Homo sapiens: one gene and its partners. The protein of the gene in region 1 purifies or fractionates together with the protein of each later gene. This does not show direct contact. Each region holds a gene or a part of one and is shown on either strand. Other genes may lie near its edges. The genes, in order: NIPSNAP3A, MCCC2, OCIAD1, TMLHE, TARS2, CYP24A1 and SLCO5A1.

What was found.
Region 2: the proteins of NIPSNAP3A (region 1) and MCCC2 purify together in Homo sapiens (affinity purification with mass spectrometry; one large-scale study listed by BioGRID and IntAct). This does not show direct contact.
Region 3: the proteins of NIPSNAP3A (region 1) and OCIAD1 purify together in Homo sapiens (co-immunoprecipitation; one large-scale study listed by IntAct). This does not show direct contact.
Region 4: the proteins of NIPSNAP3A (region 1) and TMLHE purify together in Homo sapiens (affinity purification with mass spectrometry; one large-scale study listed by BioGRID and IntAct). This does not show direct contact.
Region 5: the proteins of NIPSNAP3A (region 1) and TARS2 purify together in Homo sapiens (affinity purification with mass spectrometry; one large-scale study listed by BioGRID and IntAct). This does not show direct contact.
Region 6: the proteins of NIPSNAP3A (region 1) and CYP24A1 purify together in Homo sapiens (affinity purification with mass spectrometry; one large-scale study listed by BioGRID and IntAct). This does not show direct contact.
Region 7: the proteins of NIPSNAP3A (region 1) and SLCO5A1 fractionate together in Homo sapiens (co-fractionation; one large-scale study listed by BioGRID). This does not show direct contact.

Annotation. Positions count from the first base shown.
Region 1 is NC_000009.12:104,750,683-104,754,182, forward strand, and holds part of NIPSNAP3A (protein NipSnap homolog 3A), read left to right. Parts: intron 1-273; coding exon 274-484; intron 485-2,223; coding exon 2,224-2,382; intron 2,383-3,500.
Region 2 is NC_000005.10:71,649,840-71,653,339, forward strand, and holds part of MCCC2 (methylcrotonoyl-CoA carboxylase beta chain, mitochondrial isoform 1 precursor), read left to right. Parts: intron 1-229; coding exon 230-344; intron 345-2,829; coding exon 2,830-2,915; intron 2,916-3,500. UniProt on the Homo sapiens protein: Carboxyltransferase subunit of the 3-methylcrotonyl-CoA carboxylase, an enzyme that catalyzes the conversion of 3-methylcrotonyl-CoA to 3-methylglutaconyl-CoA, a critical step for leucine and isovaleric acid catabolism.
Region 3 is NC_000004.12:48,855,088-48,858,587, forward strand, and holds part of OCIAD1 (OCIA domain-containing protein 1), read left to right. Parts: intron 1-2,125; coding exon 2,126-2,278; intron 2,279-3,500. UniProt on the Homo sapiens protein: Maintains stem cell potency. Increases STAT3 phosphorylation and controls ERK phosphorylation. May act as a scaffold, increasing STAT3 recruitment onto endosomes. Involved in integrin-mediated cancer cell adhesion and colony formation in ovarian cancer.
Region 4 is NC_000023.11:155,515,453-155,518,952, forward strand, and holds part of TMLHE (trimethyllysine dioxygenase, mitochondrial isoform 1 precursor), read right to left. Parts: intron 1-3,500. UniProt on the Homo sapiens protein: Converts trimethyllysine (TML) into hydroxytrimethyllysine (HTML).
Region 5 is NC_000001.11:150,493,919-150,497,418, forward strand, and holds part of TARS2 (threonine--tRNA ligase, mitochondrial), read left to right. Parts: intron 1-2,563; coding exon 2,564-2,710; intron 2,711-2,891; coding exon 2,892-2,990; intron 2,991-3,500. UniProt on the Homo sapiens protein: Catalyzes the attachment of threonine to tRNA(Thr) in a two-step reaction: threonine is first activated by ATP to form Thr-AMP and then transferred to the acceptor end of tRNA(Thr). Also edits incorrectly charged tRNA(Thr) via its editing domain.
Region 6 is NC_000020.11:54,163,987-54,167,486, forward strand, and holds part of CYP24A1 (1,25-dihydroxyvitamin D(3) 24-hydroxylase, mitochondrial isoform 1 precursor), read right to left. Parts: intron 1,848-3,500; coding exon 1,756-1,847; intron 578-1,755; coding exon 466-577; intron 1-465.
Region 7 is NC_000008.11:69,674,479-69,677,978, reverse strand, and holds part of SLCO5A1 (solute carrier organic anion transporter family member 5A1), read left to right. Parts: intron 1-1,305; coding exon 1,306-1,370; intron 1,371-3,500.

The DNA of each region.
Region 1 (3,500 bases):
ACTCCTACCCTGTGGAGTGTGCTTTCATTTTCAATAGATCTCTGCTTTTGTTACTTCATTCTTTCCTTGCTTTGTGCATTTTGTCCAGTTCTTTGTTCAAACACCAAGAACCTGGACACCCTCCATCAGTAACATATTGAGAATTGACAACAGAAGTACAAACATGAGTAATGAGTCTATGAGTGTCCCTTGTACCAGATTCAGATTAGGTTTTAACACAATATAATGAATCCTGTCTTCTCAAGATATTTACATTTGTCTTATCTTCTTCAGATGTGCTCATCTTTTGCTACGGGACCCAGACAATACGATGGAATATTCTATGAATTTCGTTCTTATTACCTTAAGCCCTCAAAGATGAATGAGTTCCTGGAAAATTTTGAGAAAAACGCTCATCTTCGGACAGCTCACTCTGAATTGGTTGGATACTGGAGTGTAGAATTTGGAGGCAGAATGAATACAGTGTTTCATATTTGGAAGTATGGTAAAGAGTCATCCAATTTTGGCTTTCAGTATAGATTTTCATTTTTCAGTATAGATTTTCATTCTGTTAAATGTAACATAAAACTTAGTTCTTGGATGTATATTATTTTAGATACATACAGGTTAACTAAGACTTTTGAAAAGCAATACCAAAAAAATAAATTCAGTTCTTATTCTTCCCAGTGGTACACCTCTAACCCCTTGCTTAAACATTACATTATATTACATTATAAATTGGAAGACATGGCATCTCATATATCAAGCGATAAAATTGTGAACTAGACTTTAAACCTCAGAAAAATATTAAAATGGTTTGCTGTAAAGATAGTTCATGAAAAATTTAAAGCAGCAATTGTAAAAGTCCAAGTGGATTAAGATCACAAAAGGAAAGGAGAAGTATCTTTTCTCTTTTTGAAGCTAGGGGGCTGGATATCAGTATTTTAGCAGAAATAATTCAACCATTTAAGGGACTTCACAATATGGAGGTTTATAGGGGATGATGGTTAACTTTCAATCCTCACTGAACTCTGAGATTTAATAATTCTGTTATGTTTAGAGACCACATTTGTTTCATATCTGTACCCCCAGAGTTTTGAGGAATTCACTGTCATACTACTCTAGGGAGGTAAAAGAAAAGGAATGAAAGAGAGTTCTTCCCGTGTTGAAACTAACCTACGCCTGGTTTAGTAGAGGAAGGAGAATAAGTTACAAGAATGCCCAGAATGCTTGTTACTCCAGTGTCTACATCAGGACTTGATGATACCTAAAGAATTTTTAATAATTTCATTTAGTGTTTGGTTTAGGGTTTTTCCCTGTTAATAGAAAAAGCCCCATTAAAATACATTTTATGCTTTAGATGTGGTACAAGTTGTATCACAGCCCATTAAAAAAACTAAGTTCTGATATACCTCACTTAAGTTGTAAGATAGGTATTCTTCCTTATCCCAATGTAAACCATATGAACCTCTCTTGCCATTAGTCTTATGAGGTCCTAATGGTAATTATAGTACTAGGCCCATATGTTGGCAAATGTATATAACTGTTTGGGTAACTTAAATAGAAGAGAAATAAGTGCTGGGGAGAAAGAATGGATGACAATAAGAGAATCAGCATTATTTCTTTGAAATCTGTTTGTTCAAAGGAGAAGAGGCTTAAAAAGTACGGTTTAACTTCACTCATGTTAAATTTGATTCAAGATGTTTTAACTTCACTCATGTTAAATTTGATTCAGGGTGTATCTGAACTTGACTACCCACCACCACCAAAGAAAAACAGTCTTTCTCTAAACTAGCACTATAAGTTAAATGCCTCAATCAAGTAAGAATAGTTCACATATACTGAGTATTAACTAGTGCCAACCGCTATATTCTAAACTCTTTTCATGTGTTAATTTAATCCTCATACAACCCTGGAGGTAGATGTCTTATTATCTCAATTTCACAGAAAGTGAGGCACAGAAAGATTCAATAACTTACCTAATTCACAAAACTGCCTACTATATGGTTGAGCCTATAAAGCCTATTATGTGGCATTACAGTTAGTTTGCATTTCTACTGCCCTTTTTGTCCTTGAGCAACTTCAGGGCAGATGGTCACATCTGTTTACGTTGGTGTCTCCAAAGGCCTAACACAAGGTTCTTATATGGCATCAATGACCATTGCTGATGTGAATGAAACCCAGAAAAGTACAGGTGATTTAAAATTGAATTTTTTATTTTTCTTAATTCTTTTCTTCCCACAGATAATTTTGCTCATCGAACTGAAGTTCGGAAAGCCTTGGCCAAAGATAAGGAATGGCAAGAACAATTCCTCATTCCAAATTTGGCTCTCATTGATAAACAAGAGAGTGAGATTACTTATCTGGTACCATGGTGCAAATTAGAAAAACCTCCAAAAGAAGGTAAGTCCTTCCTTCTTAGTCACTGAGTTTTGATGAATAAAATACTAAAGAACTTAAGTGATCAAAACTGAAGTTCCTTTGGAAAAAAATAAAATTAATTCTTTGTTTTATATAGAAACATACAGTGATTGTTGTGGTAAAAATAAATGGGAGCTCTTACCCCATCCTTTAAAAAAATGAGCATAAAATAATGAGATATTTTTCAAATTGAGACCTTGCAGATTTGTAAAGCTTAACTGTGTTATAGAGAAAGCTGACATGGTCAGTAGAGGTTGAGAATTTGTGCATTGGGAGCAGAGAACGTGTTGATAGGTAAGGGATAGCATAAGAAGTTTTGCCATAATTTTAAAATAATATGATCTTTAAAATGTAAAAGTATTTCCATAAATTATAACTAATCTTAAATCATTAAATACAGCTTTGCTTATAAAACTGAGTATTTGGGGGAAACAGATTAAGTGAAACTGCCAAGCTATATTACTTTAATCTAACTTTTGTGTCTTCTTTCTTGTTTCTCAGTTTGAAAGTAATTGCTTAAGATTTGTCTTCTTGCTGATTTCACTTCTTGCTGACTTAAAGAAACTATTACCTCAATCCAGTTTTAAATAAAGGTCAGATTAGAAAAGCATAAACTTATTTAAATGTTATTTTACTTCCCCCATTATTCCCAACTTTGTAGTGTATTTAGGTTACAAAAAATTTACAAAGTCTTCCTTGGATCTTTACCTACTTAGGTGTCCCCTCAGCTCTCAGCACTATCTAAATAAAATAGTTCACTTCTCTGACAGTGTCAAATCTTGGTTCTCCTCCTCTGTGTACATCACTGCTTGGAAATTTTTACATGCTTTTCCTACTTGTCCCAGAGTTTCTTTCTCTCCACCAGCCCTATACTTCTGTCCAAAGTGTACAATACTTTTCAAGTATTTACCTGGATATTTAGGAAAAATAAAACCATCTCTTTAGGTTTGTCTTTTTTCCTCCAAAATTCAAAGATATCACTTCAGGTCCACTCTTTGCTTTGCTGTTCCTGTTAAAAATGGAAACTTATAGGGAGAAATTATATGAAGAAAAACATAGTGGAAATTGGAAAGAATGAAAATATAGATTGGAAAATTCTT
Region 2 (3,500 bases), on another chromosome or scaffold:
ATACCCAGAATTACATGGAGAACTTAGAAGTCCCATCTGTGCTCAGGACCCTCCTCTGGAGTCTAGTCTGGGGTGTGTTCCAGGCATTTGTATATTTGTGAAAGCTCTACAGATGATTGTAATGTGCAGCCAGAATCAGGAACCACTAATTTAAAAGGCAAACATGGGCCTCTGAAAATCTATGTTGTATATTGACTTAATTTGTTTATTCTTCCTTTTCTTCCCCCAGCCCAAGATTTCTCTACATTTGGCCAAATGCTCGTATCTCAGTGATGGGAGGAGAGCAGGCAGCCAATGTGTTGGCCACGATAACAAAGGACCAAAGAGCCCGGGAAGGAAAGCAGGTCGGTGTCGTTTTCTCTTGTTTCTCTCTGGTTTTGCCTCTCACCATAAACACCCTGGAGCCAAGGAGCAGCGTGCCTGGAAGCCCTTGGTGTTCATGGCTGGGGACCTGGCGCACACTGCCTGGCCATATTTAGACTGTGCTGCCCTGGAAGTTGTTCCAGCAAATCACATGATTTCTGTCCTTTATCTTTTTAAAGCCATTTCATTTGGGGTACTTTCTTTGTGGCCATTTAAAATTGTTTCAGAATTTCCAAGAAAACACTTTTTTATTTTATTTTTATTTATTTTTAAAATTTTTGAGACAGAGTCTCGCTCTGTCACCCAGGCTGGAGTGGAGTGCCGCAATCTCGGTTCACTGCAGCCTCCACCTCCTGGGTTCAAGCAATTCTCATGCCTCAGCTTCCTGAGAAGCTGGGATTACAGGTGTGTGCCACCACGCCAGGCTAATTTTTGTATTTTTATTTATTTATTTATTTATTTTTGAGACAGAGTCTCGCTTTGTCGCCCAGGCTGGTGTGCAGTGGCACGATCTCGGCTCACTGCAAGCTCCGCCTCCCAGGTTCACGCCATTCTTCTGCCTCAGCCTCCCGAGTAGCTGGGACTACAGGTGCCCATTACCATGCCTGGCTAATTTTTTTGTATTTTTAGTAGAGATGGGGTTTCACTGTGTTAGCCAGGATGGTCTCGATCTCCTGCCCTTGTGATCCACTCGCCTTGGCCTCCCAAAGTGCTGGGATTATAGGCTTGAGCCACCGCGCCCGGCCTAATTTTTGTATTTTTAGTAGAGACAGGGTTTCACTATGTTGGCCAGGCTGCTCTCAAACTCCTGACCTCAAGTGATCTGCCCACCTCCCAAAGTGCTGGGATTACAGGTGTGTGCCACCATGCCCAGCCAAGAAAACACTTTAGAAACTGACAGTAAGTATCTGAGGCATAAAGATGTTTGATTCTTAGTCATTTGTACTTAGTGAGATTTAAATAAGTCTGATGTACTACTTTGATTTTATGACCAAAAGCAGCAGAATTTTGTTCTTTCTATTTTACTTTTAGATTGTTGTTAAGGATACCCTGAGTGGGAGGGCTCCGTCATCTATTGAGAATTGAATAACATTATCCTGTGTATAAATGAAGAAAAATGGAAAGGGCAGTGGAAACTTGATGAAAGGCAGATCAGCAAGCGGCTGCTTTTAAAATGAATTCTTTTGTTTGTGTCTCTGTTGGAGATTGTTTGAAATTTTGCATTAATTTTTATTAGTTACAACTTTTAACTCCTGTGTAAGCACCAAGTATGAAGATGATGGTTGTGTGTTCCTGAAGTTGCTTAGGTACACTGTTGTCTCATTATGGGAAGGGATGGAATGGAGGGAGCCCTGTCTGCTCTGTGCAGGAATCATCAGGTCTTCCACCTAGATTGTGGAGTGAGGTACTGCCTCCCTGAATGCATCCATCCATGCCTCACATCCCTAGTTGTCTTTTCCAAGCACTCGGAACTCTGGAGACTTACATTGAGGTTTCAGATTCACTTTAGTACCTACTAGTATCAAAGGAAACAGATAGCTTTGCTTTTGTGCGAGTGGTTGGGGTGTGGGTGTGTGGGTGGGGGAGGTGAGATATGAAATTCTACCTGATACTTCAAAGACATGTCTGAAACTCTATGAAGCCTAGCATGGTGATCTCTTATTAAGTAGTTGTTCTTTGATTACTTCAATATACAGATACTTGAATTCATTCATTTTTATACAGGAAAGGAAAGCACAGTGTGTTAATGGTTCTCCCTCAGAATTCGTGACCTAGAAAATGATATTAAGGTATTAGCATATTTACGTAAAAGAAGGTAGAGTTTATTTGAAATAAGTCTTTGTTTCTGCTGTCGAGTTGCTTTTTGAGTTGAAAGTATTTTTCAGGGTTTCAAATTAAGTTCTGAAGATTTTTACATCTGAATTAATTATCACTTGATCCTTGTAATACTGATGGGAAGGCTGTGAAATTCTTAATTAGGGGAAAATATCTCTCAGTTCTCTGGGAACTTGACTGAAAAGGTTATTCAAGATTTGGTTGGTATTTTACCCCTTTAAGCTTAAACATTTAAGCTTAAGTTTTAAATTTTGGCTATTTTAAATGAGAATCTCATACTTTTCCACATTCTTAACTGGAGGTTGCTAAGTGTAATGCAGCCCTTTTGTTGGGTTGTATAATTCACATCTATTATTGTACCTTGCTGTGATACACAGTACCCTGGGCTTTCACCTTACGTGAAATAGCCTCAGGATATTGTCTCTGTTAGGAGAGATGGGATGGGGCACTAACTTGATACTCATGTCTTAGCGTGTATGTTAATGATCACTTGTAATTTATACATCACTATGCACATGTTAGATGTAACATTATTATTCATGACATCTGTTGTTTCTTTTGAATTGAGATGATCTAAACAGGGCCAGTTGTTCACTGAAGCTGACTTACTCATGGCCTCTTTTCCTTTAGTTCTCCAGTGCTGATGAAGCGGCTTTAAAAGAGCCCATCATTAAGAAGTTTGAAGAGGAAGGAAACCCTTACTATTCCAGCGCAAGGTGGGGGCCAGAACATCACTAACTCTCTGATGGGTGCAGATGGCAGTCAGAGGAACAGCTTTACAGAGCTCTGTGTAGTTGAGATGGTCCAGCATTCATAGGAACTGGAAAATAACATTTGGACACACTTAATTTTGTACTGTTGTTTCTTTACAATCTGAATGGCTACTGCTGAAATGCCACCCCTCCTCCCAGCATCCCTGCACTGTGGACTCACCACCAGTGGTCTGATTCTCGCTTCCCTTGTCTTCCCCCTAGTTGAGGTGTCTGGGGCCTGGAGGGGTCCTGCAGCCCAAGGTGGGCCATGTTAGGAGCCGAGAATAAGTTATAAGCTTGGCTGTGTTACTTCAGAAGTTCTAATTTTTGCTTAAAAACCCCTCTCCTTGATCATTTTGTTTTTACCCCATTTTAAACATGAGATTGGTTGAACACTTACTGGCATTTGTTGACAAGTATGCTTGTACGTTTGAAAGGTGATTAGTCACTGCCAGGGTCTGTGTGTCGGCGCCAAATAATTACCTCACAGACCATTGCCGCTGTTGGCTCGGTTTTTTTCTTACACCACTTAATGAGGTAATAAATTAT
Region 3 (3,500 bases), on another chromosome or scaffold:
ATGGTAAAATATTTTTTATAAGAAAAAGTATTAGACCTGGAAGGAACTTCAGAGATCATCTGCTCAAACTACCATATTTCGCAATTGAGAAAACCAGGATTCAAAGAAGCTTAGTGATTTGCCCAAGGACATTTCCTAATTGTCAGCAGAGTGGGGTTAAGAACCCAAGGTTCCTGAAGTACACACGATTTCCTTCAGAATTTTTAATATAACATATATGGTGAAGGGAAATGAGTTCAGTAATTACTTATTACTAATGAAATGCAAAGTGTTTTAATCCCAATATAAGGTTATAATATTTTTCTTTACATTCTTTTTTTAGTAAGAAAAATGTAGTTTTGAACCATCATATAATACTAGAACTAATTAGGAGAAATTTAAATCCTCTTTGCTTTATATAAGTATAGTATATATTTATTTAGCAGAATAAATGTTTATGGTTGAAAATGGCTGGGTGCAGTGGCTCATGCCTGTAATCCCAGCACTTTGGGAGGCCGAGGCGGGTGGATCACCTGAGGTCAGAGTTCAAGACCAGCCTGACCAATATGGCGAAACCCTGTCTCTACTAAAAATGCAAAATTAGCTGGGCATAGTGGCACATGCCTATAATCCCAGCTACTTGGGAGGCTCAGGCAGGACAATCACTGGAACCTGGCAGGGGGAGGTTTCAGTGAGTCGAGATTGTGCCCCTGTGCTCCAGCCTGGGTAACAGAGTGAGACTCTGTCTCAAAAAAAAAAAAAAAAGTTTATGGTTGAAAACATTATTTAATGTATAGTTATGTTGCTTAGAAAATTCTGATTATTCACTGGGATCCTACCTTTGAGTTCTAAATAAGTATCACAAAAATTATTTTTTAAAAAGTTAATATTAAAAGTATATGCCCAATTTGTATGTCTTATTGAAAACATCTTTGAAAAACAGTACTTTTGGTGTGGTATGTGGTAGGTAAGACTTTGTAAGTTAAGTAGTTGTTCACTGAATGTTAGCATCTTTTTTTTTTAATGTTCATATGGCCTTTTTTGCTGTTTATAAATTGTATAAACTATGTTCACTATTTGATCCTGTCAACCAATATTAGGAGTAACCACTGCATTATATTTACATTTGACTCTATGATAATATGTAATATTCACATTTTGACTCTCTTTGGGAGAAATAAAGAATAAATGTTAGTTCCCAGGCCAAAATAACAGTTGATACTTTCTTCTGCATCAACATTGCATCTGTTAGACTGGAATGAAAACAACACATATTCTGATTAAAGGCTATGTTTTATACTTTTCAAGTAATTATTTTCAACTTTTTTTCCTTTTTTTTTGAGACAGAGTTTTGCTCTTGTTGCCCAGGCTGGAGTGCAATGGCGCGATCTCAGCTCACTGCAACCTCCGCCTCCTGGGTTCAAGCGATTCTGCCTCAGCCTCCTTAGTAGTTAGGATTACAGGTGTGTGCCACCACGCCCAACTAATTTTGTGTTTTTAGTAGAGATGAGGTTTCTTGTTGGCCAGGCTGGTCTTGAACTCCTGACCTCAGGTGATCCGCCCGCCTCGGCCTTCCAAAGTGCTGGGATTATAGTTGTGAGCCATTGTGCCTGGCCTATTTTCAGTATTTTTGTTTAAATTTTGTAAAAAGGTAAAATAAATGATTTTTGAAAATAGCTGGAGTTGTTTTCATAGAGTCTGTGGTTATAGGACTATTTAACTATATATTGAGTAAAATCTATGCTATGTCAAGTTTTATTCAGTTGTCCCTAGTAGAATATATTTCTCTTTTAATTCTGTATACAGTATGAGTAACTCCAGTTTAAAACACTGGTATTTTAATGAGTTTAAATTGTACTGTTATATATTATGATACATATTTTTCTTCTGGCTGTGGTTTAGTTTTTAAAATTTTTGATGTCCATTTTAATTTTTAGAAATAAAAGCTTAAAAATATGGGTGGAAGTAGATTTCAGTTTGATGATTATCTTGGTGAAAGTATAGTACCTGTGAAATGGTGGTAATAATTTGATTCTTTATTCTATTTTGATTGTAGCTCCTTTTGTAAGGAGCATTTGTAAAATTTAGTTGCTTTAGAGTTATACAAATCCTTTTATTACCATTTATTAACTGTTTGTTGTTTTAGGACCTGATCCCAACCTTGAAGAAAGTCCTAAAAGAAAAAATATTACATATGAGGAATTAAGGAATAAGAACAGAGAGTCATATGAAGTATCTTTAACACAAAAGACTGACCCCTCAGTCAGGCCTATGCATGAAAGAGTGCCAAAAAAAGAAGGTATGATAGTTTAGTCTGAATCACTTTACTGTTGAGGATTGGAAACTAAAACATTACTTTAAAACAATACTATAAAAAATTAATTAATATGTGATTTAACTCTTCAAGCAATTAACCAAAGTAAAATATTTTTAAAATAGTACTTTACAGTTATCAGTTCTTTTTTTTTTTTTGAGACGGAGTCTTGCTCCGTCGCCAGGCTGGAGTGCAGTGGCACGATCTTGGCTCACTGCAGCCTCTGCCTCCTGGATTCAAGCAATCCTCCTGCCTCAGCCTCCCAAATAGCTAGGACTACAGGCCCCCACGCCCAGCTAATTTTTTGTATTTTTAGTAGAGATGGGGTTTCATCATGTTGGCCAGGATGGTCTCGATCTTTTGACCTTGTGATCCGCCTGCCTCAGTCTCTGAGAGTGCTAGGATTACAGGCTTGAGCCACCGTGTCCGGCCAGTTTTCCATTTTTAAGGTGTTCCAAAGGCCATTTTGTGTTAGAAAATAATGAAGTCAAGGCCAGGTGTGGTGTCTCATGCCTGAAATCCCAGCACTTTGGGAGACCAAGCTGGGTGTATCACTTGAGGCCAGGAATTGGAGACCAGCATGGCCAACATGGCGATACCTTGTCTCTACTAAAAATACAAAAATCAGCTGGGCATGGTGGTGCATGCCTGTAATCCTAGCTACTCGGGAGGCTGAGGCAGGAGAACTGCATGAACCCAGGAGGCAGAGGTTGCAGTGAACCGACATCACGCCACTGCACTGCAGCCTGGATGACGGAGCGAGGCTCTGTTCCCCCCTCCCCCCGCCAAAAAAAGGAAGAAAATAGTGAAGTCCAAATAGTAAGTCTTAAGACAGCAAGATTAGTTTAACACAGGGTAGAGACATACTCATTTGACTGTTTCTCTCTTACAACAAATCTCCTTGGAGATCTGATAGTCTTATTTTCCTAATGATACATCTATCGCATAAGTTGCTGTAGTGACCTGAGGTTGGCGTTGCGCTGTAATACCACTTGTGGCCTAACCACAGAATGATTGAGTAATGAGATTGATTTTCTTGTACATTTGGGTTTTTCTCGTGTTTTTTTGTTCTGTTTGTTTGTTTTTTCTTTTTGAGATGGTTTTATTCTGTCACCCAGGCTGGAGTGCAGTGGTGTAATCATGGCTTACTGCAGTCTTGACCTCCTGGGTTCAAGCAGTCCTCCTACCTCAGCTTCCTGAGTAGCTG
Region 4 (3,500 bases), on another chromosome or scaffold:
TATAATTTAGAAATAGAATGTATATTACATTTCTTAAAAGTTCGTATCTTTGTATTTAGAAATTTCAAAGATATAAACTTTTAAGAGTTCTGATATACATAATCAAATTACTTTTTAGAAAGTCTACTTATCTTCATTCCCTCCAACAGTACATATGTGTCCATCAAAATGGAGTATTCTTATTTTTAAAATATATTTTTTTCTAATTTGGTAACTAAAGTGGAACTGCTATCTTGTAATAATTTTAACTTATTTGCTTACTAAGGCTAATAAGAATACTTTCTATATTTGTTAGACATCTATGTTTCTTTAATGCAGGGACTACCAAACTATGGTTGATGAGTCAAATCTGGTGCTTGGTTTTGTAATGCCTGTTTCAGAACACATGCTGTCCATGTTGTTACATATTGTCTATAGCTCCATTCACTCATATAGCCCACAAAGTTTGAAAATATTTACCATCTGGCTCTTTATAGAAAATGTTTGCTGACTCCTGCTTTAATGATTTGTCTGTTCAGTCCTTTCTCACATTTTTCTATTGGAACAATTGTACTTTTCTTCTTTTTTTTTTTTTTTTATTATACTCTAAGTTTTAGGGTACATGTGCACATTGTGCAGGTTAGTTACCTATGTATACATGTGCCATGCTGGTGCGCTGCACCCACTAATGTGTCATCTAGCATTAGGTATATCTCCCAATGCTATCCCTCCCCCCTCCCCCGACCCCACCACAGTCCCCAGAGTGTGATATTCCCCTTCCTGTGTCCATGTGATCTCATTGTTCAATTCCCACCTATGAGTGAGAATATGCGGTGTTTGGTTTTTTGTTCTTGCGATAGTTTACTGAGAATGATGGTTTCCAATTTCATCCATGTCCCTACAAAGGATATGAACTCATCATTTTTTATGGCTGCATAGTATTCCATGGTGTATATGTGCCACATTTTCTTAATCCAGTCTATCATTGTTGGACATTTGGGTTGGTTCCAAGTCTTTGCTATTGTGAATAGTGCCGCAATAAACATACGTGTGCATGTGTCTTTATAGCAGCATGATTTATAGCCCTTTGGGTATATACCCAGTAATGGGATGGCTGGGTCAAATGGTATTTCTAGTTCTAGATCCCTGAGGAATCGCCACACTGACTTCCACAATGGTTGAACTAGTTTACAGTCCCACCAACAGTGTAAAAGTGTTCCTATTTCTCCACATCCTCTCCAGCACCTGTTGTTTCCTGACTTTTTAATGATTGCCATTCTAACTGGTGTGAGATGATATCTCATAGTGGTTTTGATTTGCATTTCTCTGATGGCCAGTGATGATGAGCATTTCTTCATGTGTTTTTTGGCTGCATAAATGTCTTCTTTTGAGAAGTGTCTGTTCATGTCCTTTGCCCACTTTTTGATGGGGTTGTTTGTTTTTTTCTTGTAAATTTGTTGGAGTTCATTGTAGATTCTGGATATTAGCCCTTTGTCAGATGAGTAGGTTGCGAAAATTTTCTCCCATGTTGTAGGTTGCCTGTTCACTCTGATGGTAGTTTCTTTTGCTGTGCAGAAGCTCTTTAGTTGAATTAGATCCCATTTGTCAATTTTGGCTTTGGTTGCCATTGCTTTTGGTGTTTTGGACATGAAGTCCTTGCCCATGCCTATGTCCTGAATGGTAATGCCTAGGTTTTCTTCTAGGGTTTTTATGGTTTTAGGTCTAACATTTAAATCTTTAATCCATCTTGAATTGATTTTTGTATAAGGTGTAAGGAAGGGATCCAGTTTCAGCTTTCTACATATGGCTAGCCAGTTTTCCCAGCACCATTTATTAAATAGGGAATCCTTTCCCCATTGCTTGTTTTTCTCAGGTTTGTCAAAGATCAGATAGTTGTAGATATGCGGCATTATTTCTGAGGGCTCTGTTCTGTTCCATTGATCTATATCTCTGTTTTGGTACCAGTACCATGCTGTTTTGGTTACTGTAGCCTTGTAGTATAGTTTGAAGTCAGGTAGTGTGATGCCTCCAGCTTTGTTCTTTTGGCTTAGGATTGACTTGGCAATGCGGGCTCTTTTTTGGTTCCATATGAACTTTAAAGTAGTTTTTTCCAATTCTGTGAAGAAAGTCATTGGTAGCTTGATGGGGATGGCATTGAATCTGTAAATTACCTTGGGCAGTATGGCCATTTTCACGATATTGATTCTTCCTACCCATGAGCATGGAATGTTCTTCCATTTGTTTGTGTCCTCTTTTATTTCCTTGAGCGGTGGTTTGTAGTTCTCCTTGAAGAGGTCCTTCACATCCCTTGTAAGTTGGATTCCTAGGTATTTTATTCTCTTTGAAGCAATTGTGAATGGGAGTTCACCCATGATTTGGCTCTCTGTTTGTCTGTTGTTGGTGTATAAGAATGCTTGTGATTTTTGTACATTGATTTTGTATCCTGAGACTTTGCTGAAGTTGCTTATCAGCTTAAGGAGATTTTGGGCTGAGACGATGGGGTTTTCTAGATAAACAATCATGTCGTCTGCAAACAGGGACAATTTGACTTCCTCTTTTCCTAATTGAATACCCTTTATTTCCTTCTCCTGCCTGATTGCCCTGGCCAGAACTTCCAACACTATGTTGAATAGGAGCGGTGAGAGAGGGCATCCCTGTCTTGTGCCAGTTTTCAAAGGGAATGCTTCCAGTTTTTGCCCATTCAGTATGATATTGGCTGTGGGTTTGTCATAGATAGCTCTTATTATTTTGAAATACGTCCCATCAATACCTAATTTATTGAGAGTTTTTAGCATGAAGGGTTGTTGAATTTTGTCAAAGGCTTTTTCTGCATCTATTGAGATAATCATGTGGTTTTTGTCTTTGGCTCTGTTTATATGCTGGATTACATTTATTGATTTGTGTATATTGAACCAGCCTTGCATCCCAGGGATGAAGCCCACTTGCTCATGGTGGAAAAGCTTTTTGATGTGCTGCTGGATTCGGTTTGCCAGTATTTTATTGAGGATTTTTGCATCAATGTTCATCAAGGATATTGGTCTAAAATTCTCTTTTTTGGTTGTGTCTCTGCCCGGCTTTGGTATCAGGATGATGCTGGCTTCATAAAATGAGTTAGGGAGGACTCCCTCTTTTTCTATTGATTGGAATAGTTTCAGAAGGAATGGTACCAGTTCCTCCTTGTACCTCTGGTAGAATTCTGCTGTGAATCCATCTGGTCCTGGACTCTTTTCGGTTGGTAAGCTATTGATTATTGCCACAATTTCAGAGCCTGTTATTGGTCTATTCAGAGATTCAACTTCTTCCTGGTTTAGTCTTGGGAGAGTGTATGTGTCGAGGAATGTATCCATTTCTTCTAGATTTTCTAGTTTATTTGCGTAGAGGTGTTTGTAGTATTCTCTGATGGTAGTTTGTATTTCTGTGGGATTGGTGGTGATATCCCCTTTATCATTTTTTATTGTGTCTATTTGATTCTTCTCTCTTTTTTTCTTTATTAGTCTTGCTAGCGGTCTATCAATTTTGTT
Region 5 (3,500 bases), on another chromosome or scaffold:
GGCCAAGGTGGGTGGATCACTTGAGATCAGCCTGGCCAACATGGCAAAACCCCATGGCGCGGTGGCCTTGGGTAAATCTTACTTATTTTCCCCATCTATAAAATGAGGCTATTAATTCCTTTTTGTCCTACCAGTAAATTCACCTCATAAAGATAATGAAAACCAGGCCAGGCATGGTGGCTCACACCTGTAATCCCAGCACTTTGGGGAGGGTGAGGCAGGCGGATCACTTGAGGTCAGGAGTTCGAGACCAGCCTGGCCAACATGGTGAAACCCTGTCTCTACTAAAAATACACAAATTAGCTGGGTGTGCTGGCCTACGCCTGTAATCCCAGCTACAAAAAAGGCTGAGGCAGGAGAGTCACTTGAACTCTGCCAGGAGGCAGAGGTTGCAGTGAGCTGAGATTGTGCCACTGCATTCCAGCCTGGGCCACGGAGCGAGACAACATCTCAAAAAAAAAAAAAAAAAAAAAGATAATGAAAACCAACTAATTCAGGAAAAAGGAAAAGTTAAAAAGTGCTGTAAAATACAGACTGTCGGCCAGGTGCGGTGGTTCACACGTGTAATCCCAACACTTTGGGAGGCCAAGTTGGGCGGATCACTTGAGCTCAGGAGTTCAAGACCAGCCTGGCCAACATGGTGAAACCTCGTCACTACTAAAAATAAAAAATTAGCTGGGCGTGGTGGCATGCACCTGTAGTCCCAGCTACTCGGGAGGCTGAGGCAGGAGAATTGCTTGAACTGGGAGGCAGAGGTTGCAGTGAGCCAAGATTGCACCACTGCACTCCAGCCTGGGCAACAGAGTGAGACTCTGTTTCAAAAAATATACATATAGGGGCTGGGCGTGGTGGCTCACGCCTGTAATCCTAACACTTTGGGAGGCTGAGGCGAGTGAATCACGAGGTCCAGAGATCGAGACCATCCTGGCTAACACCGTGAAACCCCGTCTCTACTAAAAATACAAAAAATTAGCCAGGTGTGGCCGGGCGCAGTGGCTCACGCCTGTAATCCCATCACTTTGGGAGGCTGAGGCAGGCGGATCATGAGGTCAGGAGATCGAGACCATCCTGGCTAACACGGTGAAACCCTGTCTACTAAAAATACAAAAAATTAGCTGGGCGAGGTGGCGGGCGCCTGTAGTCCCAGCTACTTGGGAGGCTGAGGCAGGAGAATGGCGTGAACCCTGGGGGGTGGAGCCTGCAGTGAGCCAAGATCACGCCACTGCACTCCAGCCTGGGCGACAGCGAGACTCCGTCTCAAAAAAAGAAAAAAAAAATTAGTCGAGTGTGGTGGTGGTGGCCTGTAGTCCCAGCTACTTGGGAGGCTGAGGCAGGAGAATGGCGTGAACCTGGGAGGCGGAGCTTGCAGTGAGCCGAGATCGCGCCACTGCACTCCAGCCTGGGTGACAGATGTATATACACACACACACACACGTATAGACTGTTTCTCATTAGTACTGTTTAACAGTTTTATTTTATTTCATTTTTATTTTTTTGAGACAGAGTCTTGCTCTGTTGCCCAGGCTGGAGTGCAGTGGCCTGATCTCGGCTCACTGCAACCTCTGCCTGCCAGGTTCAAGCAATTCTCCTGCCTCAGCCTCCTGAGTAGCTGGGTTACAGGCACGTGCCACCACACCTGGCTAATTTTTGTATTTTTAGTACAGACAAGGTTTCACCATGTTGGTCAGGCTGGTCTTGAACTCTTGACCTTGTGATCCACCCACCTCAGCCCCCCAAAGTGCTGGGATTACAGGTGTGAGCCACTGCGCCCGGCCTCTCATTAGTACTTTTTTGTTTGTTTGTTTGTTTGTTATTTTTTGAGATGGAGTCTTGCTCTGTCGCCCAGGCTGGAGTGCAGTGGTGCGATCGCGACTCACTGCTAGCTCCACCTTCCGGGTTCATGCCATTGTCCTGCCTCAGCCTCCCGAGTAGCTGCGACTACAGGCACCCACCACCACACCCAGTTAATTTTTTTGTATTTTTAGTAGAGACGGGGTTTCACCATGTTAGCCAGGATGGTCTCGATCTCCTGACCTCGTGATCCGCCCGCCTCGGCCTCCCAAAGTGCTGGGATTACAGGCGTGAGCCACCGCGCCCGGCTCATTAGTACTGTTAAAGGAGAGAGCAGGCAGAGGCTTTTGGATTTCATGTGGCCAGGAATGGGATATGGTATAGAAGACTGACTTTTCTAGCAGCTGTATAGGATATTGATAAATGGAGGAATAGACTGACATTTGACCAGAGCTTATGGTTATTCCTCTAAGCAGTCATTGATTAGAATGGGAAGGAACTAAGTAAAGGGGTAATGAGAATGGGGAGAAAAAGAGATGGCAAGGTAAGGTTAGGCCTGACCAGGTTGTATGTAGGAATTAAGAGTCAGGCAATTTCAACACTTTAATCTAGAAGAATGGTGTCTAGAGGATGGAGGTGTTCATCCTACTGGTGGGATTGTTGTCAAGAGGCATACCTGTGACACTTAACACTGAGAGTATCATTTGAGTCTTGAAAAAGGTGGGGGCCTTCAGTCCTCATCTTTCCTTTGATCCCCTATGTCCTCACACAGAACTCATCATCCTTATGGAGGTCTTCAGGGGCCCCAGAGACACTGCAGAGAGTGTCAGGGATTTCCTTCCCCACAACAGAATTGCTGAGGGTCTGGGAAGCATGGAGGGAGGAAGCAGAATTGCGGGACCACCGGCGCATTGGGAAGGTACAGGAATTGGGAAGATAGGGAGGGATGGTGATAAGGGTTGGAGAGAGATGACAGAACCTGATTATGAAATTGGGAGCAGATTCAGTCACACAGACTGAGCAGCTCCGTCAGTTGTTCTGAGTTCCAAAGCCACCTCCTTGCCCTTGAGGTGACCCAATATTGCTATTCCTGACCCCAGGAACAGGAGCTCTTCTTCTTCCATGAACTGAGCCCTGGGAGCTGCTTCTTCCTGCCACGAGGGACAAGGGTGTATAATGCACTAGTGGCGTTTATCAGGGTAAGGGGACCCAGGTCTAGAGGAAAGAAGACCAGGGAGGGGCTGAGGGACTAGAAGAAGCTAAGGTGTTTGTGTTAAAAGATGGGGGTTGGGGCCGGGCACAGTGGCTCACATCTATAATCCTAGCACTTTCGGAGGCTGAGCCGTGCAGATCACCTGAGGTCAGGAGTTCGAGACCAGCCTGGCCAACATGGCAAAACCCTGTCTCTACTAAAATAAATACAAAAAATTAGCCAGTGTGGTGGCAGCGCCTGTAGTCCCAGCTACTGGGGAGGCTGAGGCAGGAGAATCCCTTGAACCCAGGAAGGGGAGGTTGCAGTGAACTGAGATTGAGCCACTGCACTCCAGCCTGTGTGATACAGTGAGACTCCGTCTTGAAGAGAAAAAAAAAGGTGGGGGGGCTGGTTTGGAATCATAAACATAAATATTGAAAGTGCTGGTGACCTTTAATACTACAATTGTGTGGTCTGCAGTCGGGGAGCATAGAGATGGGACCTGGTATTTAATAGG
Region 6 (3,500 bases), on another chromosome or scaffold:
GTGCAGTGGCTCAGTCTTGGCTCACTGCAACCTCCGCCTCCCAGGTTCAAGCAATTCTCCTGCCTCAGCCTCCTGAGTAGCTGGGATTACAGGTGCCCACCACCACGCCCAGCTAATTTTTGTATTTGTAGTAGAGACTGGGTTTCACCGTGTTGACCGGGCTGATCTCAAACTCCTGGCCTCAAGTGATCTGCTCGCCTGGGCCACCCAAAGTGCTGGGATTACAGGGGTGAGCCACTGCACCTGGCCAGATTTTACTTTTAACCACTCTTAATTCCCAAAGAAGACTACAGAAAGCTTGTTACTTAGAATTTGTGTATGCTGGGGCAATCCCCAAAACACCTGTGTTTGCAAAACCTAAATGTGGTGATGAGGCTCAGGAGATCACTCCAGACCTCCTCTCTGAAGCTCCAGACACGGGGGTGCTGGGCTGGTTCTGGCTGGTTGTGAAGGGCGGCCCTTTACCTGATTTGAAAATGGTGTCCCAGGCCAGAGTGTGGTCCTGCCAGACCTTGGTGTTGAGGCTCTTGTGCAGCTCGACTGGAGTGACCATCATCCTCCCAAACGTGCTCATCATCTGAGAGAAATGCAAATGCCTTTTTATTCTGAATTCTCCTTCTCTCAAAGACAATGTTCGTTCTGGAAGAGGAACATTCTAAACCGCAGCACCCTGCACTTTTTAAAAGGCTGGAATTACAAGGACACCCCCGGCTCTCTCTGCACCGGTCCTGGGAGCAATGCCCGTACCCCACCTCCACCTCCTTTCAATATTGAAGGTAATGTGGGGGATGATTTTCCACTGGATGTGTTTGATAAAAATTGTAATCTTATGACCTAATTGTAAAAAAAAAAAAAAAAAGAGGAAAAACGATAACTTTCATATTCACTTCAATTTCTAATAATTTCCAAACTTCAGTGATTTCCAAACCAATTTCACAGCGTTTATCCTATCTACACGCCACCCAAACTATTCAAAAAGATAAAATCTGAAAAATTTTGGGCTCTTTTTAAAAAGTATTTTTAATCAACTGATCTTTAATTAAAATAGCTATTTTAACCTTGCCTAAACAAAGAAATAATGGATTTAATGTGCTTCTTTATGTTACGTGCATATATCCAGGGGTCCCCAACCCCCAGGCCGTGAACCAGTACTGGTCAGTGGCCTGTTAGGAACGGGGCCGCGCAGCAGGAGGTGATCAGCGGGCCAGCAGGTGTTACCACCTGAGCTCTGCCTCCTCTCAGATCAATGGCTGCATTAGATTCTTACAGGAGTGTGAACCCTATTGTGAATTGCCTATGCGAGGAATCTATGTTCCACACTCCTTATGAGAATCTAATGCCTGATGATCTGTCACTGTCTCCCATCACCCCCAGATGGGACTTTCGTGTTGCACGAAAACAAGCTCAGGGCTCCCACTGATTCTACATTATGGTGAGTATATAATAATAACAGAAATAAAGTGCACAGTAAACGTAATGCACTTAAATGATCCTCCCTCCCCTGCCCCACCACCCTGCCCTGTCCATGGAAAAATTGTCTTCCACGAAACTGGTCCCTGGTGCCAAAAAGGTTGGAGACAGCCGCATATATGCACATAAATATACTAAAATATATAATGCACATTAAAATGAACACTTAACTATTGAAATAAAATATGTGTGTATGCCATTTTTTGGGAATCACTGTGAAGTTCTGTAAAAATCGATCTGTAAAACATCAATCAAGAAAACTGCTTTCTTAAAGAGGCTGCTTACTGTTTTGATGGCCATGATGAAGTTCACAGCTTCATCCCCTGCATTCTTCTGGAGAAGCCCAAATCTCTTCTCATACAACACGAGGCAGATACCTGTCATTTAAAATAATCATCACTTTACACAAACAGCAATGCTGGAGTTGGAGTCTATGTTTAGCTGGTTATTAAAGACTCAATTCTATGCCTCTTAAAAGTGTGGGATTTTCTGAGAAAAGGCAACAGTCCAAGAATATTGAGGAAAAGCAGAGTCTGAGAGAAAGGGGACACCATCACTTTCTTTTTCTAGAAATTATCTCCAGGTCCAATGACTCATCACCTCAGAGTGTCATGATCAGAGATCCACTGTCCTGATCAAGTCACACAGGAGATCCAGGGGCCCTAGCAAAGGTGCTGCAGGGTCGGGTCTGCACTCTGCCTCTAACCCAGCTGTGTTTTTAGAGTCACTTATTGGATTCTATCTCCTGACATAATGAATTGGAAGCCATTCACCAGAGGAAGAGAAGGGAAGGGAATAATTATGTTCTAAACACCCATTACACGCCAGGTACTGGGCTAGCACTTCATATAGGGTTTTTTTTCCTTCCATTTCATCATTTTATTTAGAAGGAACCTTTTTACAAATAAAATTCTCAACTCTTCATTTCAAAACTTTTTACCTAGAGAAAAGTTGAAGGAATGGTAAAATGAATACCTGAATCCCCCGAACTCATCAACATCTTGCTGCCATTTCTTTCTCTTTGTGTGTATGTATGCATACAAGTGTATACGTGGTTGTGTGTGCTGAAGCATCTGAAAATAATTTTGAGCTCTCAGGTCACTTCACCGTTAAATACTTTAGCAGTAATGTCCTAAGAATAAAGCATTCTCCAACATAACCACAATGTCATTAACATCCCTAAGAACCTTAGCGACCATTCCATAAAAAATCTACTGTGTCCCATTTTAAAATGTTCCCCATTGTCCTAAAAATTATCTCTTGTAACCTTTTTTTTTTAAAAAAAGGACACAGGGCCGAGCGTGGTGGTTCACACCTGTAATCCCAACACTTCAGGAGGCTCGGGCAGGCAGACTGCTTGAGCCCAGGAGTTCGAGAATAGCCTGGGCAACATGGCAAAACGCTGTCTCTACAAAAAAATAAAAATAAAAAAATTATTCAGGCATGGCTACATGTGCCTGTAGTTCCAGCTACTCTGGAGGCTGAGGTGGGAAGATCTCTTGGGCCCAGGAGGCCGAGGTTGCAGTGGGCCGAGATCATACCACTGGCCACTGCACCCTAGCCTGAGTGACACAGTCTGGAAAAAAAAAATTATACAGGATTACTGCAACCAACTTTTTAGTGGTGGATAATTGGCTCTTGACTTATAAAGTAGGAGACTAGCATTAAAAAGGTAAACAAATGGCCTAAAATCATAAACCTGAGGAGTGAGAGTCAATTAGCTTAGTCAGCACCCACCCACAGCTTTTCCAACTACCTCCATGTTTTCCAAACTCTACTTATTTCTTCCCAGCCTTTCAAGGTTTCCCCGTATTTGTGTTCCACAGTGGTTGGCAGGTACACCACTGGGAATATGTGAGATAGCTCTGGATGGTACATGAACTTTAAAAATAATTAGTTACTCTGCTGGGCACAATGGCTCATGCTTGTAATCCCAGCACTCTCAGAGGTGGAGGTGGGAGCATCATCTGAGGTCAGGAGTTTGAGACCAACCGGTGGCAAAACCCCATCTCTACTTAAAAAACACAAAA
Region 7 (3,500 bases), on another chromosome or scaffold:
CACCCATGGGTCTGGGCAGCTTCTGCCCAGATTAGGGGGTGCAGTGCAGGGAAGGGGATTAGGGGGGATTAGGGGGTGCAGTGCAGGGAAGGAATGAAGAAAGGGAGTCAGTTCTTACTCTTTCTCCAGGCTCCTCAGATGCCACAATGCTGGGCACCTTGCAGGAAGCACCTGCTGAGATGTCATTGCTTAGCAAGGGCAGTTGGCTGCACCAGATGTATTCTGGCTTCCTTCCCACTTGGTGCTGAATCAGGCATTTCCCAGCAAAGCTGTTCCTTGACAGCCAGATAGTAGTGCATGAAAGGCCCACTGGTTTGTTTACTCAGTTCTTCCAGCAGCAGATATTTATGGAATAACAACCTGTGTGCAGCACTTTGCAAATTGCTCTGAGAAATAAAGAAATTGGGGAAAAGGTGACAAGGGCACTGGTCTTGGGAAAGTTCCTATTATATACCATACTCTCATGGGTATGTGATGGAGAGGTTAAGGTACTGCAGCATTAAAAAGACATGAATCATTCATAAATTTACTCAAATAATCTTATTCTTTGCACTTTAATTCCTCAAGAGATGTTAAATAACCCATTGGCTACTTTTTCTTTTGGTGTTCATAAATGGCAAATCGCCAGTTGGCTTCTAACCTAAAATTTCAGAAAAGGAGCCCTTTAATCTTTGCTAATTACAGAACCAGTTGACTCCAATCTTCCTGTCACATGGGAATAACTTGGAGTATAAGTTTTTAAAAAAGAAAAAAAGATGTGGTTGGAGGGCTTATGCTTCCTCTGATCTTTGACTTGTTTCCTATACATTTTTTGAATATACTTTTATTCTTTACTCTTCTTTCTTCCTGTTTTGGAAGAATTATTGGAGTAATTTTCAATGTATGCATCTACCACTCTGGAAGATGCAGGCACACAGGCAAAAAAACAAAAACAAAAACAAAAACAAAAAAACCGTGCAGTATTTAAGATGAAATTCTATAATTAAAAAAAAATGGATCTGATTTTGGAAGCTCAGTTAGAGGCATTCCAGCTTCTTCAGCCAAAAGCCTTTAACCCTCTACCAGTATTTTTGTAGAAACAATTAGAGATAGTCAGAGTTTCTTTGATGTCTACATTGGGAAAACCTTTATTCAGGGATTTAGCCACCAGCAATCTTGTGTGGCTATTGTTAGTAAATAATAGTGAATTAAATATTTTGGCATGGCATCTTTAGTCCCTGGCTCTGCACAAAGCCGACTTGATTTGACATTCATTTTCTTGGGGCTACTATTTAAAATGCATTTCCTTCTTTCCCTTCACTGTAGGTCCGTAGAAGATGAGGAGAGACCTTTTGCACTGGGAATGCAGTTTGTTTTGTTGCGAACACTTGGTACGTCCCTGAATTTCCAAGTGTACCTCTTAGTTCCTCTTTGCAGATGGCAAATTTTCACTGTCCTTTAAAAATGGCAAGTCATGTCATTTATTACCATGAATAAGATTTTACAGGCTAGTGGTGAGGGTACAACTTCCTTGTTTTCTGATTTGAACTAGAAGCTGACAGGTTCTGTTGTTTGATGAAACAAAACAAAACCAACGTTAGGTTAGTTTCTTTTTCATTATGAACATAAACTTGGACAAAATTCCCCAGAATTTTGCACAGTAAGAAATAGGAAATCAAGCAATTTGTGAAGAATTTGTAATCCTAGCATTTTGACCCCTTTATGCCTTTTTACTATGAAAGCAGTAGAAATTGGTCTTTATTTGTGAAGTTTTCAATGCCTCACTTCTTTACAGTAATTTTATTGGACTAAACAAAGAGTATACCTATCAAGTTTTCTGAGAAAAAGAAAAAACTTTAAAAAGGAAAAGAAAGGTCTCCAAAGTGACATATAGGGACTGCCTTGTAAGTATTTACTTATCAACAAGAGAAGCTCAGTAGTGCTGTGTCCATGTGATAAACCACAGAGTACATTTGTACGGGTGGAACATAGGTCTTATTTTTACAAACACCACATCCCTCTGTGAGTTCTTGAGACAATGGGAAATAAGCATGTAACATACAACATTCCTTTGATCAGTTTCAATGTATTTTAAATTGACGTCTTTGTCATCAAGCTTATTTTTCCTTTTATAATGTCTTTTTCTCAAGTGGCAGTCTGTCATTTCCTTCAGCTGTTATTTTCTCCTCAGTAATCAGTGTCATTGTCTACAAGACAAAAAAATTGCTTTTTGATTCAAATTTCTTATTTCAGTTTTGAAGAGGTAATGTTTAAAAAGGGCATCTTCTGACCCCCTGAAGCATGAATCCCCTGGCATTCTCCATTTGTCATATGTTGTGGTTGATGGCCCAGTCCAAGAATGAGCATTTTCAATAAGCCCCAGGAGGAAAATGCTTCTAGTTCCATTTAATGAGTGGCTTGTTTTTTTCAGTACTAATAAGACTCTGAGGCTATCATTTTTTAAAAAACATGCTGTTTAAAGGAAATCCTGACACACTTAGATATAGTGAAGAAGTCTGCCTTAGGCCGGGTGCAGTGGCTAATGCTTTAATCCCTGCACTTTGGGAGGCCGAGGTGAGTGGATCACCTGAGGTCAGGAGTTCGAGACCAGCCTGGCCAACGTGACGAAACCCCATCTCTACTAAAAATACAAAGAAATTAGCTGGGTGTGGTGGTGCCTACCTGTAATCCCAACTACTCAGGAGGCTAAGGCAGGGGAATTGCTTGAACCTGGGAGGCGGAGGTTGCAGTGAGCCGAGATGGAGCCACTGTACTCCAGCCTGGGCAACAAGAGCAGAACTCTGTCTGAAAAAAAAAAAAAAGTCAGTCTTATAGATCTTGTTAAAAGTTAAACAGTATTATTTAGAAATAACATTTAGAAATAAGGAGATTTGTTAACCAAAGGGGTAATTGAATAAGAAAAGAAATATATATGTATATATATATGTATTTTTTTTTTGGAGACAGAGTCTTGCTCTGTTGCCCAGGCTGGAGGGCAGTGGCACAATCTCAGTTCTCTGCAACCTCTGCCTCTAGGGTTCAAGTGTTTCTCCTGCCTCAGCCTCCCAAGTAAGTGGGATTACAGGCACTTGCCACCATGCCTGGCTAATTTTTGCATTTTTTTTTTTTGTTTTTTTTTTTAGTAGAGATGGGGTTTCACCATGTTGGCCAGGCTGGTCTTGAGCTCTTGACCTCAGGTGATCCACCCGCTTTGGCCTCCCAAAGTTCTGGGATTACAGATGTGAGCCACAATGCCTGGCCAGAAAAAGATAATTTCTTCTTTTTGCTTTGCCCCTCTCTGATGCCGTGGAGTTGGGGTCATTTGATATGATTTGGAGGTAAAGGTGAGTCAACAGATGTATGCTACAGCATCAAGAATAAGTGGAGGGAGAACATTTCAGACATTTATTATTTAATTCAACTTTATTTTAACTTCTATGGATTGTGAAAAAGTCTAGTTGGGCCAACAAGCCAATTTTCATTTCCCCCCAAATTCTGAAGCAGAAAAAGAGTTTTAAAAA